Homo sapiens: one gene and its partner. The protein of the gene in region 2 interacts with the protein of the main gene of each other region in a pairwise test. Each region holds a gene or a part of one and is shown on either strand. Other genes may lie near its edges.

Evidence for each region. The genes of interacting proteins can lie anywhere in the genome.
Region 1: the proteins of SYTL5 (region 2) and WAC interact in binary tests that used the Homo sapiens proteins (3 or more experiments, as listed by UniProt).

Annotation. Positions count from the first base shown.
Region 1 is NC_000010.11:28,613,118-28,620,117, forward strand, and holds part of WAC (WW domain-containing adapter protein with coiled-coil), read left to right. Parts: intron 1-1,449; coding exon 1,450-1,568; intron 1,569-3,055; coding exon 3,056-3,245; intron 3,246-4,539; coding exon 4,540-4,667; intron 4,668-6,419; coding exon 6,420-6,489; 3' UTR 6,490-7,000.
Region 2 is NC_000023.11:38,121,459-38,128,571, forward strand, and holds part of SYTL5 (synaptotagmin-like protein 5), read left to right. Parts: intron 1-621; coding exon 622-757; intron 758-3,839; coding exon 3,840-4,048; intron 4,049-5,129; coding exon 5,130-5,272; 3' UTR 5,273-7,113. UniProt on the Homo sapiens protein: May act as Rab effector protein and play a role in vesicle trafficking. Binds phospholipids.

The DNA.
Region 1 (7,000 bases), on a different chromosome or scaffold from region 2:
TTTGCTGGGGGAGGCCGAGGCAGGCAGATCACTTGAGGCCTAGAGTTTGAAACAAGCCTGGCCAACAGGCAAAACCCGGTCTCTACTAAAAGTACAAAAATTATCTGGGTGTGCTGGCACAGACCTATAATCCCAGCTACTCGGGCGGCTGAGGCATGAGAATCACTTGACCTGGGAAGTGGAGGTGCAGTTGAGCCAAGATCACGGCACTGCACTCCAGCCTGGGCAAGAGAGTGAAACTCTGAAAAACTTTCTTGGGCATGGTGATGTGCACTACTCAGGAGGCTGAGGTAGGAGAATCACCTGCGCCTGGGAATTCAAGGTTGGAGTGAGCCAAGATCACGTCACTCTGCACTTGAGAGTAGGCAACCAGACTAAGACCCTGTCTGGAAAAAAAAAATCCTTTAAGCAGGTAGCTGTTCGTTTTTTGTGTTCCAAAAACTTCTTCAAGTTGTTTTTAAAATAATTGAACATTTGAGCTTTTATGTAGTGCTTATAAAATGTTCTTTATAAGACTTGACTAGAATTGATAGGTAATATTCAGAAGTTAAGCAGGACATTCCAGATTTGTTAGGGAGAATTATTAATCATATCCCCTCACCCCACCAAAAGAAAAACAGCAGTGAGGTGTGACTTAATCACAAAGGACTCCATCTGCCTTTGTGCCTCAATTTAGAGCTTATATTTTAAACTGCTTTTCTCTATGTGGCTTCTGAATATAATACATATCCTGATTGGCAATCATGGACTTCAGTCTACCTCTGTAGAGTAACATCTCTTTGAAAAACTCTCATGTTGAACTTTATATGGGCCATAACTCATTTTCTGATAGCCCAATCACATATTTCTCCATATCATTAAAATCTAAGCATCCATATGTGTATGATGTGGTAGCATACATAATTTACTTTTATTGATATAAAAGTAACAGTAAATCAGAAGAGATAATAATGTATTGGAAAGAAAACTGAGCTGTAAAGGAGAACTAGTTACTTTTTTTTTTTTTGAGACGGAGTCTCGTTCTGTCGCCCAGGCGGGAGTGCTGTGGCGCGATCTCCGCTCACTGCAAGCTCCGCCTTCCGGGTTCACGCCATTCTCCTGCCTCAGCCTCCCGAGTAGCTGGGACTACAGGCGCCCGCCACTGCGCCCGGCTAATTTTTTGTATTTTTAGTAGAGACGGGGTTTCACCGTGGTCTCGATCTCCTGACCTCGTGATCCGCCCGCCTCGGCCTCCCAAAGTGCTGGGATTACAGGCGTGAGCCACCGCGCCCAGCCCTAGTTTGATAGGGAAGTAATTTTATGACCTTGGGCCATTTTCACAAAGAAATGAGATCTAAGTTTCAGAACTTGACTGCCACATTTTACATGTTTCAAGACGATTACCTAGATTTTGGGGGGAGAGATGTGGATTAGATTTGGAGACCATCTCACCAGATTTTGACATTTCAGGTTAGTACTCCAGTAGTTAAGCAAGGACCAGTGTCACAGTCAGCCACACAGCAGCCTGTAACTGCTGACAAGCAGCAAGGTCATGAACCTGTCTCTCCTCGAAGTCTTCAGCGCTCAAGGTAGGTTGATATTGTATATTGAGACCACATTGTTTTATTTAATGATGGTACACTGCATTGTTTGAATATTATATCTGTAAAATAGAACTTAACCTTTAAACTCCATGAATACCCTAAAGTAGGCTTACATGTTGTAAAATTTACAAAGACAAACCTGTATACAAGAGGTAGGTTATTGTCTCTAGTAGTGAAGCCCGGGTTATTTTGAAGAAAGTGGCTCTTTAAAATTTTACACAGTGGAATATGACGGGGCTAAAGATTTGTGATACTTGTACCAGAAAGGCACACGATTTTACAATATTTGTTGGAATTACCTTACTTTTTAACCTCCTCATAGCAGTTTTGGTTTGAGTATATTGATGAAAGCCAAAGTCTGGTATCTAAAACTTGGGCCAATGTTTCCCAACTGGTATATGTCAGGCTTTCCCAATAGCTTAACTGTGACCCTATACGGATGGCTTTTTAGATAGTTCTATACTGCTGTATTGTGTTAGCACTTTTCTTTGTTCATTAACAACACAACTTTAAATGACATTTGTTGAATGAATGGTTTTCATTTGATTGATTTTCCTGTTTTTTATTTCATGCTATGAGGTAGCAAAATAATTCAACTGTTGTTTTTATTGTTGTTTTCTAAACAAGCATTTCAGAACTTACACCTCCAAATGAGAGTTGTTCCCTTCAAAATAATGACCTTGGGAAGCTGTCTACTTACTCCAGCAATGTTGCCATTGCTCTGAACATTTTTGGGAAATTCTTCTTTTAAATTGTTTTTAGAGGCTGCAGTATTATTTTAAATATCCTCAGTGATGAAAACTCTTCATCCTTTGGGAGATTTAGTTTTTGGAAATAACTGAAATTCATTCAGAGCCAAGTCTGGTGAAGCAGGTAGGAGATCAACTTGGGTGATTAAATTTTTTGGTTCTCACCACCATATCCCCAACCCTGGCCCAAACCATTCAGTTTTAAAAGAAGATAAAGAATCTCAGAGTGTTATTTTTTTGGTTTTGTTTTGCCACTGTGCTTGTTCAGTGCTATCCAATAAAATGTCTGTATTTTGCTTCACATTATTTCACCCTCTGATTCAGCAGTTCTGACGTTGAACAAAGGCAATATATATTTTCCCCTTATCTAGATGTGTATGAGCAGTCTTCAGATGTGCATCTACAGCTGTTAAAATGTGACTTTTTTTAGTTATATTATTAGTGTTTGTGGTACACAAAGTTAACAGGTTCTGCTCTCAGATTTGGAGAGTAGTTTACATTTGACTCTGACAGTAGTGTTAAAAGGGTTTTTTCCCCCTAAAGTGTTTTGAGGAATCATATACTTTGGATTATTAATTCTCTTTATTTGACATTAAAATAACAAATTTTTCTTAGGAATTTGGATATCTTTAAGTTAATAAAAGGTATTAACATGCAGTTTCTAGGATAAGGATACCCAGAAACTACTTTTAAACATACTACACATTCAATTCTGTTTTCTAGTAGCCAGAGAAGTCCATCACCTGGTCCCAATCATACTTCTAATAGTAGTAATGCATCAAATGCAACAGTTGTACCACAGAATTCTTCTGCCCGATCCACGTGTTCATTAACGCCTGCACTAGCAGCACACTTCAGTGAAAATCTCATAAAACACGTTCAAGGATGGCCTGCAGATCATGCAGAGAAGCAGGTATGTTATGTACAGCCTAGATTTTACCTTTGGATGATTAGCAAAACAGAATTTAATCAACTTCTAGAGAATCTAATGTGACCACTGAATTCAAGCAATATTTAAAATAATGAATCTCTAACTTTGTAGTCATTTAAAAAATATTTGATATATAAGATAACTTTTCTGGTTTTACAAAATATTTTAACATAATTATAGGCACTGTTGTCAAGTACTCAGCAGTTAGCTCAGTGCTTAATGCCTTATATTTATTTTCTCTACTTCTTAAAACAGCTAAGCAGTGTAGATAGAGTTGAAGTCCTTAAGACCAAATAGTGCATAAGACCTTGATCCCAGGGTCACCCAGTTAACAGTGATGTGGCTCAAAGCCAGTGTACTTTTTCCACTCAGCTTCTCTGATAGTTTCAGATTCCATTAGCACTGTTAATCTACTGGCCAAGCGCAGTGGCTCATACCTGTAATCCCAACACTTTGGGAGGCCAAGGCAGGTGGATCACTTGAGGCCAGCCAGGAGTTCGAGACCAGTCTGACCAACATGGTGAAACCCCATCTCTAACCACAAGTATAAAAATTAGCCAGGCATGGTGGCATGCACCTGTAATTACAGCTACTCGGGAGCCTGAGGCACCAGAATTACGTGAACCCAGGAGGCAGAAGTTGCAGTGAGCCGAGATTGCACCACTGTACTCCAGCCTGGGTGACACAGTGAGACTCTGTCTCAAAAAAACAAAAAAAAACCCCACTTAATTTTCTATGACTCTCTCACTAGACTAGCAACTGGAAGTTAGGAAACATTTTTGCTTTGGGATGAGAGACCTTAGGACATTCCAGTTACTGCCATTTGCCTCTTGCTTTTTATCAGATAACTGACCATCTGGGGTGTTCGAAAGTTTACAGAGAATATGTTGTGTGTCTTACGATAGAGGAGTATAGTGAGGCTCTTGAATCAATATCTAATACCTGAACTTGCAGAAATGACAATCTCTTTGGCTGACCCAGCATCTTTTATTAACCACAAATTATGAGTCCTTTCTTAGTGCTGTATTAGCTTCAGGTTGGAAATCCTATTTTCTCCAACTTAGAAGAGAAATATTAAAATAAGTACCTTCCACCCTTAGAGACAGTTTCTTAAAACAAATTAATTTTCCCCATTAGGTTCACCAGCATTTTTGTGTATTGAAGGGAAAAGGATTATTCTCTAATCCTAGTATAAAATTGTACTCAGAAATTTAATGTTTTATTTTGTGTATGTTAATGTTTATATTTTATGTTTTCTTCATTTCTTTAATTACAGGCATCAAGATTACGCGAAGAAGCGCATAACATGGGAACTATTCACATGTCCGAAATTTGTACTGAATTAAAAAATTTAAGATCTTTAGTCCGAGTATGTGAAATTCAAGCAACTTTGCGAGAGCAAAGGTAAGTCTTTCACTGAAATATATTTTTATGTTTCTCAGGATTATGATTCTTAAATCGAACTAAAGAATGTAAATCACATTTTATTTATGAAATGTAAAGTTCTCTTCGATACATTGATCACATTCTATCACTGCATTTTCATAAGTTAATATTTCTCGTGAAGGATAAAGCCTGTCGATTTTCTCTTAACCCATGATGAATGCTTCATTAGACTTTTCTCATAACTCCATAAGCTGCAATAATATATTACTGAAAAAATGAAATATTGACCACAACTAATTATAAATGTCCTCTCTTGCTGAGGGTGTTTCCATTGAAATTTCAGATTATTTGTCCTTGCATCATCAATAGATCCCTTGAAAAGTATAGAAAGAATTTGTCTAGCAAGTTTAGTGTATCTGCTGTCTTAGTATTTTTCACCTGAACTCTTGTCTTGTATTTCTTAATCTAGTGTTTCACTCAAGTAGAATATCTAGGTCACAATAATAATAGCATAGGTATTATTTTTTAATGCCTATTACAGAATTGAGGACAAACTTGGCAATGGCTTTATGTCCTGTCTGTGCAAGTCACAGAGTTACAGGTCGATTGAATCTTGTCAAGAAACCATAAATATTTAGTAAATACCAAATGGAGTTTATAGTACAACTTGAAAAAGTAAGTTTATTTACAGTTACTAAAATATCTGGAGGTACTCTCTGAGTAACAACTTGGGTTCTTATAGTCAGATTGCTCTGAAAGTAGTTCTAACAAACTTCATTTTGGCTTGTTACATCATTCGACTTTTGGGAAATTATTCATTATTGCATCTTAGGAAAACAGTATATACAGTCAAATATCAAGCCAGCCTGATTATGCCTAATTCATGTGTACAGGCAATAAATATTATAGTTCCCAGAAGAGAAGAGTAAAAACAGGAAATATTTTTACGTTCATGGGAATCTGGGTAACTGGGGTTTGTGTGTTTCAACTTTTGGTTTTTGGCTTCATTTTTATGTACCTACATCTACATTGAGAATTGCTCTTCTAAATGATTAATCTCTTACACCTGGTTAATTCTACTCTTTACTGTATAGTGGGCCAGAAAACATGCAGTATAGGTTTATTTCATGTATAATAGCTACTGCTTTCTTTATTGTGATGATACGGTTTATAAAGTAATACATTTTAAGTTGTTAGAGCCAAAGGAATTATTAAGAAATTGTTAGAAAAGGCTGGGCGCGGTGGCTAACGCCTGTAATCCCAGCACTTTGGGAGGCCAAGGTGGGCGGATCACCTGAGGTCAGGAGTTCAAGACCAGCCTGGCCAACATGGCAAAACCCTGTCTCTACTAAAAATATAAAAATTAGCCGGGCGTAAGGACAGGTGCCTGTAATCCCAGCTACTCAGGAGGCTGAGGCAGGGAGAATTGCTTGAACCCGGGAGGCGGAGATTGCAGTGAGTCAAGATTGCACCCCTGCCCTCTAGCCTGGGCAACAGAGCAAGACTCTGTCTCAAAAAATAAAATAAAATAAAAAGTTGTTTGAAAACTAAAACATCCTTTCATCATCCTTATACTTTAATAGATATTATGTATTAAATGTTTACTTTGTCTTAACTGTAAACCAATTTATAGTTAAATAATTTTTTAAATTTCTTTGCCTTAATTAGAAATCACTTGTTTTAATTTAAAAAATTTTAATTATAAAAGCTCGGGTTTTCTGTAATATTTGTATATGTACACAGGTTCTAATGTCTGCTTTTTTTTTTCAGGATACTATTTTTGAGACAACAAATTAAGGAACTTGAAAAGCTAAAAAATCAGAATTCCTTCATGGTGTGAAGATGTGAATAATTGCACATGGTTTTGAGAACAGGAACTGTAAATCTGTTGCCCAATCTTAACATTTTTGAGCTGCATTTAAGTAGACTTTGGACCGTTAAGCTGGGCAAAGGAAATGACAAGGGGACGGGGTCTGTGAGAGTCAATTCAGGGGAAAGATACAAGATTGATTTGTAAAACCCTTGAAATGTAGATTTCTTGTAGATGTATCCTTCACGTTGTAAATATGTTTTGTAGAGTGAAGCCATGGGAAGCCATGTGTAACAGAGCTTAGACATCCAAAACTAATCAATGCTGAGGTGGCTAAATACCTAGCCTTTTACATGTAAACCTGTCTGCAAAATTAGCTTTTTTAAAAAAAAAAAAAAAAAAATTGGGGGGGTTAATTTATCATTCAGAAATCTTGCATTTTCAAAAATTCAGTGCAAGCGCCAGGCGATTTGTGTCTAAGGATACGATTTTGAACCATATGGGCAGTGTACAAAATATGAAACAACTGTTTCCACACTTG
Region 2 (7,113 bases):
ATAAACAGGTTCATATATGTAAGGTGCTTAAAACAATACTAAATAAAGGTGCTGGTTGTGATACTGGTTTATATCATTCATGTTGAATGTATTTCATAAGAAAAGAAAAGTGAGGTGGAAAAGAGATTTCTCTCACCCTAAAACGTAACTGTGTTTGGGCTGTAGCCTCTAGAGCTGGCTCTGACTAAAACTGACTATTTGTAAGACTAAAATATCAAAGGGAGTTATTGAATTTTCTCTTTTTGAGTTTTGGTGCATGTATATTGTCTTCATCATAGTTATTTCTCACTAAGAGCAGGAATGGTGCTCCGGGAAACTCTTAGGCATTCCATGCCTTTATACCCTGTGAAAAGATATGCTTTGTAAGGGAGTGTTTAAAGTTTTAAATTTATTTCTTCATTTGTTTCAACAAATACAAATGAAAGACCTATCTGGAAGGAATCCAATGGGGGCAAAAATGTTTAAATGAATAAAAATATACAATAATGTAAAGGCCCAAATTAGTCAGCAAATGAAATATATGTTTGTAGATGATCTTTGTAAATTTTGAAATGGAACTCATGATTTATCTATTTTTTTTTCTCTTTCTCCACCATTCCCTCATTTTGGTGGCTGACACAGGAAATAAGACTTTTAAAAAGGGAAAGAAGAAGGAGTCACCTGTAATCTCTGGAGGAATACTAGAAGTGTTCATCAAAGAGGCAAAGAATTTGACAGCAGTGAAGTCAGGAGGCACTTCTGATAGCTTTGTGAAGGGGTAACTTTGTTTTAGCTCTTTTTGGATGATACTTAATAGGAGATGAAAGGATCTGTGATCCACAAGCCACTGGTGGCTGTGAGCCTTCCGTGTTCTGTTTACTAGAAGTGTATGGGTGAGAACTACCCTTACATGCTGGCTCTTACATCTAAAATAACACAAGTGTTGAGGGAACTGCTGATTCTAGCTGTCACTCTGTTTCCAACATATTTCAGGAATTCCCATCACTCTTACTCTCAAGACAGTCAACTTTTTTCTGTAAGATTCATTTATCGAAAGTGGACAAAAGTATGATTTCCTATGTATAATGTATTTATATTGTTCTTTATTATCATTTTGTCCTGGCAATATGCAACAATCACCAAAATATCAGATCCTTGATATTTTTCTCTCTTGGGGGAAATTGTAAAAAGTAGAGATGTCAGAGCATCCTTGCTGGACTTATTCACTGTCGAGTGCTTTGGAGAGGCTCCAAGACCACCTGCTAGGCATTTGTGCCCAAGTTGTGGAGCAAAGGGCAGCTTCCTGAGGGAATGCAGCCTTAAAATGGATACTTTTGCCTAACTCTAGGCAACTCAAACATCAAATCCCTTTTGATTCCTGACTACTGGATATTTTTCTCTTGGAAATTGAGAAACTAAGACTGCAAGGTTATTTTTCAGTCATTCAAACAAACACAAAATGCACATGTGCCAAGCACCAGGTGCTATGCTTTCAAAAATAAATAACATATTATCCCTGCCCTCATGGAACTCCGTAAAGCACATAAGGTAAAACAAATTCCCATGATGCCAGACCATGAGGTTCATTCTTTGAGTCGGATGGCAATATTGTTCCTCTTCACATGCTGTATTGGAAAAGAGTATTTTTTCCTACAAGGAAATGGGTTGAGCTCACTCTCACATGTTATTTGTTGTTGTTGTTTGTTTTTGTTTTTGTTTTGAGACAGAGTTTCACTCTGTTGCCCAGGCTGGAGTGCAGTGGTGCCATCTCGGCTCACTGCAACCTCCGCTTCCCAGGTTCAAGTGATTCTCATATCTCAGTCTCCTGAGTAGCTGGGATTACAGGTATTTTTATTTTTATTTTTATTTTTAGTAGAGACAGGGTTTCACCACATTGGCCAGGCTGGTCTTGAACTCCTGACCTCAAGTGATCTGCCTGCCTCGGCCTCCCAAAGTGCTGGGATTACAGGCATGAGCCACCGTGCCTGGCCACATGTTCTAACTTTGGTAAAGCTAGTAGTGGGGAGAAGCAGTTCTGGGGCCTCCCCATTGGTGAGTGTGTATGCCTGAATCCTGGCACATCTTCCCTTCACTCTTCCTTGCAGTAGATTTAAGCATAGAAGAAATGCTTTCTTTGGATACTGCAGTTACAATTTGTGTCATTAGCCCTACCATCCAGTTTAAGCTTCTGCTGCTGGAATGAGGAGATGACTCCCAACCCGTGGCCACATTGTGACCTTGCAACGGTACTTGACATCTTCTGGAGCAGTATTCACTTTATCTTGTGGAAAATGTATAAAGCAGAAATAATAAAAGACAGTATTTTTGTTCTAGAAAGAAAAACAAAAGCCAATAACTTTCCGGTAAATTCTGTCTATAATAATACTTAAATATTAGGCTGATTCTAAAAAGACATGAGATTTTTTTAAAAGACAGTGAGGGAGCAAGAATAGACCCTCTGTAAAGTTTAATAATATAAAATATATCCATTAACATTAGGTCGGTCTGTGAGCCAAAAGAACAGTGGCTTAAACAAGACAAGTTTTTTTTCTCTCTTACATGTAAACAAAGACTGAAGGTAAGGTCCCCAGTGCAGGTATGGAAGCATCATGATTATCAGGGACCCAGGATTTTTCCATCTCGTTATGGTATCCACCTAATGGGTTAGGATAGCTGCTCCTGTTTCAGCTATCCCACACAAATTCCAGCTGACAGGACACTTTCCAGATGTAAGAAGTAGTTTTATCAGCACTACTTCTTATATCCCATTGGCCAGAACTCAGTCACATGGCTATTCCAGCTGCAAGGGAGGTTGGGAAATGTAGTCTTTATTCTGGGCAACACTGTGCTCAAATAAAAACACAGTTTTTTAGAGGAATATAAGGAGAGAATGGATATTAGGAGATAATAAGCAGTCTTTGCTTGGTACATGAAATTAAATCTTAAGTGACTTAATGTATCTTCTTTATTGTAAAGTCATTTGCTTGTAGCACTTTTCGTTTTTGTTCCATGTACTAATTCCATATGTACATATGTCTTCTTTTCTAAAGTATGCTCCCTGAAGGGGGAAAACAGCCATTTTTATCACATACCTAGAGCCTCATACAGTGTTTTGACCATAGTCGAGAAAACCTAGGATACAGGCGTTTTATTTGAAGACAAATTTCAGGAAACACCAGTGAGGAAGTGGAGAAAATGAAACAAGGAAGAAAGAGAAGTTGATTAAAACATATGTTAATGGGCAGGTTACCACTGTGGGCAACTGGAGCATGATTCCACTAGGGAAGCAGTGAGGAACTCTGTGGAATATACCTTAGGATTGTCACTTTGAGGGACAGGGAAGATGGGGAAATTATCCACCAATTTCTCAAACTCATCAGTTAAAAGTTGCCCCAGGGGTATTAAATTCCAAGTAATCCCAGAGTTTCCTACACATAAGCTGAGCCAGCTAACACAATATCAGATAAATTCCTTAATTAGAGGAATTTATTCCTTGTATCAAGAGACACAAGCACTTGAGGTGGGAAGCTGAAAGTATATCAGGAACTTCCCATCCTGGCTGCAAGTCAGCTCCAAGGAGGCCAAAAAGATTTGAAGCAAGGCATTCAATAGTGTCTATTACAGGAGGTATTTTCTTTTCAAGATGGAAGGAAGGACCTAAATAAGATTAGAAAGGAGAGTGAGGGCATTTTACTAATGTCCCACTGGGAAGAAATAATAAGTCAGTTCACTATATAAATCCAGATTTAAGCATATAGAAGCCTGGGAAGGAAAATCAAATAGACACATCACACTTGTGTACACGCTGACATTTTCTGTCTGCTGTCTTATTGATGATTTGATTGTTTTTTCTCATGCAGCTACCTGCTCCCTGATGATAGCAAAGCCACCAAGCACAAAACTCTGGTAATAAAAAAGAGTGTTAACCCTCAGTGGAATCATACATTCATGTTCAGTGGCATCCATCCCCAGGATATAAAGAATGTTTGCCTAGAACTTACTATCTGGGACAAGGAGGCCTTTTCCAGCAACATCTTTCTGGGAGGAGTTCGTTTGAATTCTGGAAGTGGTGAGGGATTTGGGGACCCACAGGGATGGTCTGTGACTAGGCCCAGGTGGGGGCGCTATTCTTGCAGATGTGATGTGCAGTGGATGTATATATATAGTTTCAGCTAAATCCTGAAATTACCACAAATACTTCATTCCTTTAGCTAAGGATCTATTCATTGTTAAAATACAAATATAACTACAGTAACTTTGTATCCTTAGGCTAGAAGATTGGAAGATATCATATTTATATTCAATCCTTTCATAGACTAGCATTTACACCTTAGTCTAAGTGAATTGTAAGTACTTTCTTGGGCCTTGCTTCATATTTTGCTCAGGGGATGATTACCAAGACAGCATAGGCTTCTGATGGGAGGAGAGCGACTTTCAAGACCAACATTACTTCATCATCTTCTCAGTTCTGTCCAGCACTTGCAGCTATTATTCATACTGGTTGAATTGAAAGGAAATCATTTTTTCATAAAAATAACACCAGTATTGTTAAAAACAGATCAAGGAAACCCACCACTGGTGCCACAAGACGCAACTGTAACAGGGTGAATTGGAAGAGGGATTACAGTAGTAGAGCACGTGCATTCCCCTAACTCTCATTATCCCATAGCCTAAGCCAGACATAGATGAGACCATCAGCATACACCATGGTAAACATTTCTGTTGAGGAAGGTCCTATCACTATGATAATTACTTATTTATAGATTAAGGGGAGCCAAAAATATCTATACCACTAAAAGGAAAACTCCCCAGGTCAGAAAAGTGCCCTTGTTAGAAAAAGAGAGCCAAATTCATCCCATTCTTCTGTCATGTTAGCACAGTCCAGATGAACCAGCTCTCTGCTAAAGTAGGGAGGAAGTGAGTCACCAGGGCCACCCCGATTTGCCTCATATGGCCTAGGCATTAGAGAATAGTGCAGGCTGAAATGATTGATTGATTCAATTCTAACACCACTCACTATATATACTAAGTGAGAACAAGCCAGTAAAAGGTACTCTGGTGAAAAGGCCTGCTCAGAAGTTGATAGATACCTTGCAGGAGAGCAAAGCATTTCATGTGTGACATAAAATTTTCCCGTTTCGCCTCTTCAGGTGTGAGCCATGGGAAGAACGTGGATTGGATGGACTCTCAGGGGGAAGAGCAGCGCCTTTGGCAGAAGATGGCCAACAACCCTGGAACTCCCTTTGAGGGTGTACTCATGCTTCGTTCCAGCATGGGAAAATGTAGGCTCTAAAGGGACCAGTTCTCCAAGAATGAGGCCACCAGGACCTATCTGGCTGTCTTTTCCTACCATTAGCAAACTGAGACCTGGGATTCTGCTTCCCTGCCATTTCTCACCTGACAGTGTTGGGACATGAGGGGAGAGATGTCAGTAGTATGAACATTTAGGGTCTTGCTGAGTGCCTAAAAAACATATATTTCCATCCAATCAAGGCCTTCTTGATTGGATGATAGAAAGTGTACTACTTGTCCTGTCAACAAGCAAATTGTGCAAAGGCTTATAGGGTTTATGCCATAAAAGAAATGGCACAAGCCTCCATTTGCTAATTATAAGTTACTTTAGATTTCCTCAAATCCTTTGAAGAGAAAGAGGACCACTGAGAAGGTAGATCACTTGAAAAGTCAGAAGAAAGGATACTGGCCAACTTTTACTCACCCTAGGAATCCACATGATCTCAAGAAGGCATGGTGGAGATGGTTGCTTGAGCAAGGGGATTGTCCTGTTATTGCAGCAAACTTGTGGATTAACCAAGTAGTATTTCAAGATGGATTGACAGGGCTTTCTATGATTACTATAGAATTTATCATCTAAATCAGTTTACTTTTTAGAACAAAGAGAGCTAAATAACTACATCAGAACGATTGATGTTGATTAGAATTGACCTGGGAAAATTGGGATGTAGGGTCACCCTACTGATGACCTAAGAGAGCTCTGTTTTAAACATTTATTTTATAAAATGTTCTAAGCCATTAACTAAAAGGAAATGAGATATAATGGTCAATTGATATACCTTTTCACATTGTGTTCACTGACGAGACTAGTTTAATGAAAAAGGAGGTACTCTACCTGCTATTTTACTTCTGTTCCTCTTCTGCCCTGTTATGGGAGAGAATCAAAGACTCCATCTGCTCTCTTCCCCCTTGTTTTCTCCTTCACTGAGTTTTTCTTATCTCCTTTTGCAGTGGTTAACTATTGTCACAATAATGCTGAATGAAAAAACACACCAAATGTCAGTGGCTTAAAATGACCATCCTTTTTCTCACAGTTATGAAGATTGGCTATGGCACCTCTGCTTCCTGCTATAGGCCTGAGGTTCTAGGGCTTCTTATGCCTCATCCTCTTTAAGCCAAAGGGATAGCCAGAGCATCTTGATGGCAGAAGTGCAATAAGATGAGCCCCACTGCTCGGGTACATTTTCAGCCCCTGGTTGTGTCATGTCTACTGATATCTCATTGGTCAAAGGAAGTCAGAGGGCCAAGATGAAGAGGCAGGGAAATATGCACTGCCCACAGTGAAGCCATGACAAGAGTGAGGATGCAGGAAGGCATGAAGAATTGGGGCCAACAGTTCAATCTACCATACCTTCTCTCACCTGGAATTCCAGATGCTTGAGCTACGAAACTTAGATGCAAAGAAAGTTAAAGCTAGAAGGAACCTCAGGCCCAGTTGCTCATTTTGCAGATTCCAAATGTGAATTTCAGAGAGCTGAGATAACTTGCCCAAGGCCATATAGAGGCTGTGACTAAATCTGGACTTAAATCCAGACTATCAATCTTAGGCCAGTGTTCTTTTTTCAATATAGTCCTTGGCATAATGCTATGCTTATTAGGTAGATAAAAGGGCTTATGTCAAGAAATTTGGAGCAGAGTCTGATTACTTGAGCATGAACATACCCGACCAAGGTATGTTCTGGAGTCATATTCTAGCCTCTGAGCTCATTTTTTCATGCGAGTTCATATAAAATCCTCGAAAGTTTAGAAACTAGGTTTTAGTAGTAACGGAGCTAGAATCATCTTCGGGCTTATTCCTGCTAGTTGTTCCATATTTCTAGATTTCATCTTGAATTTTGAAAA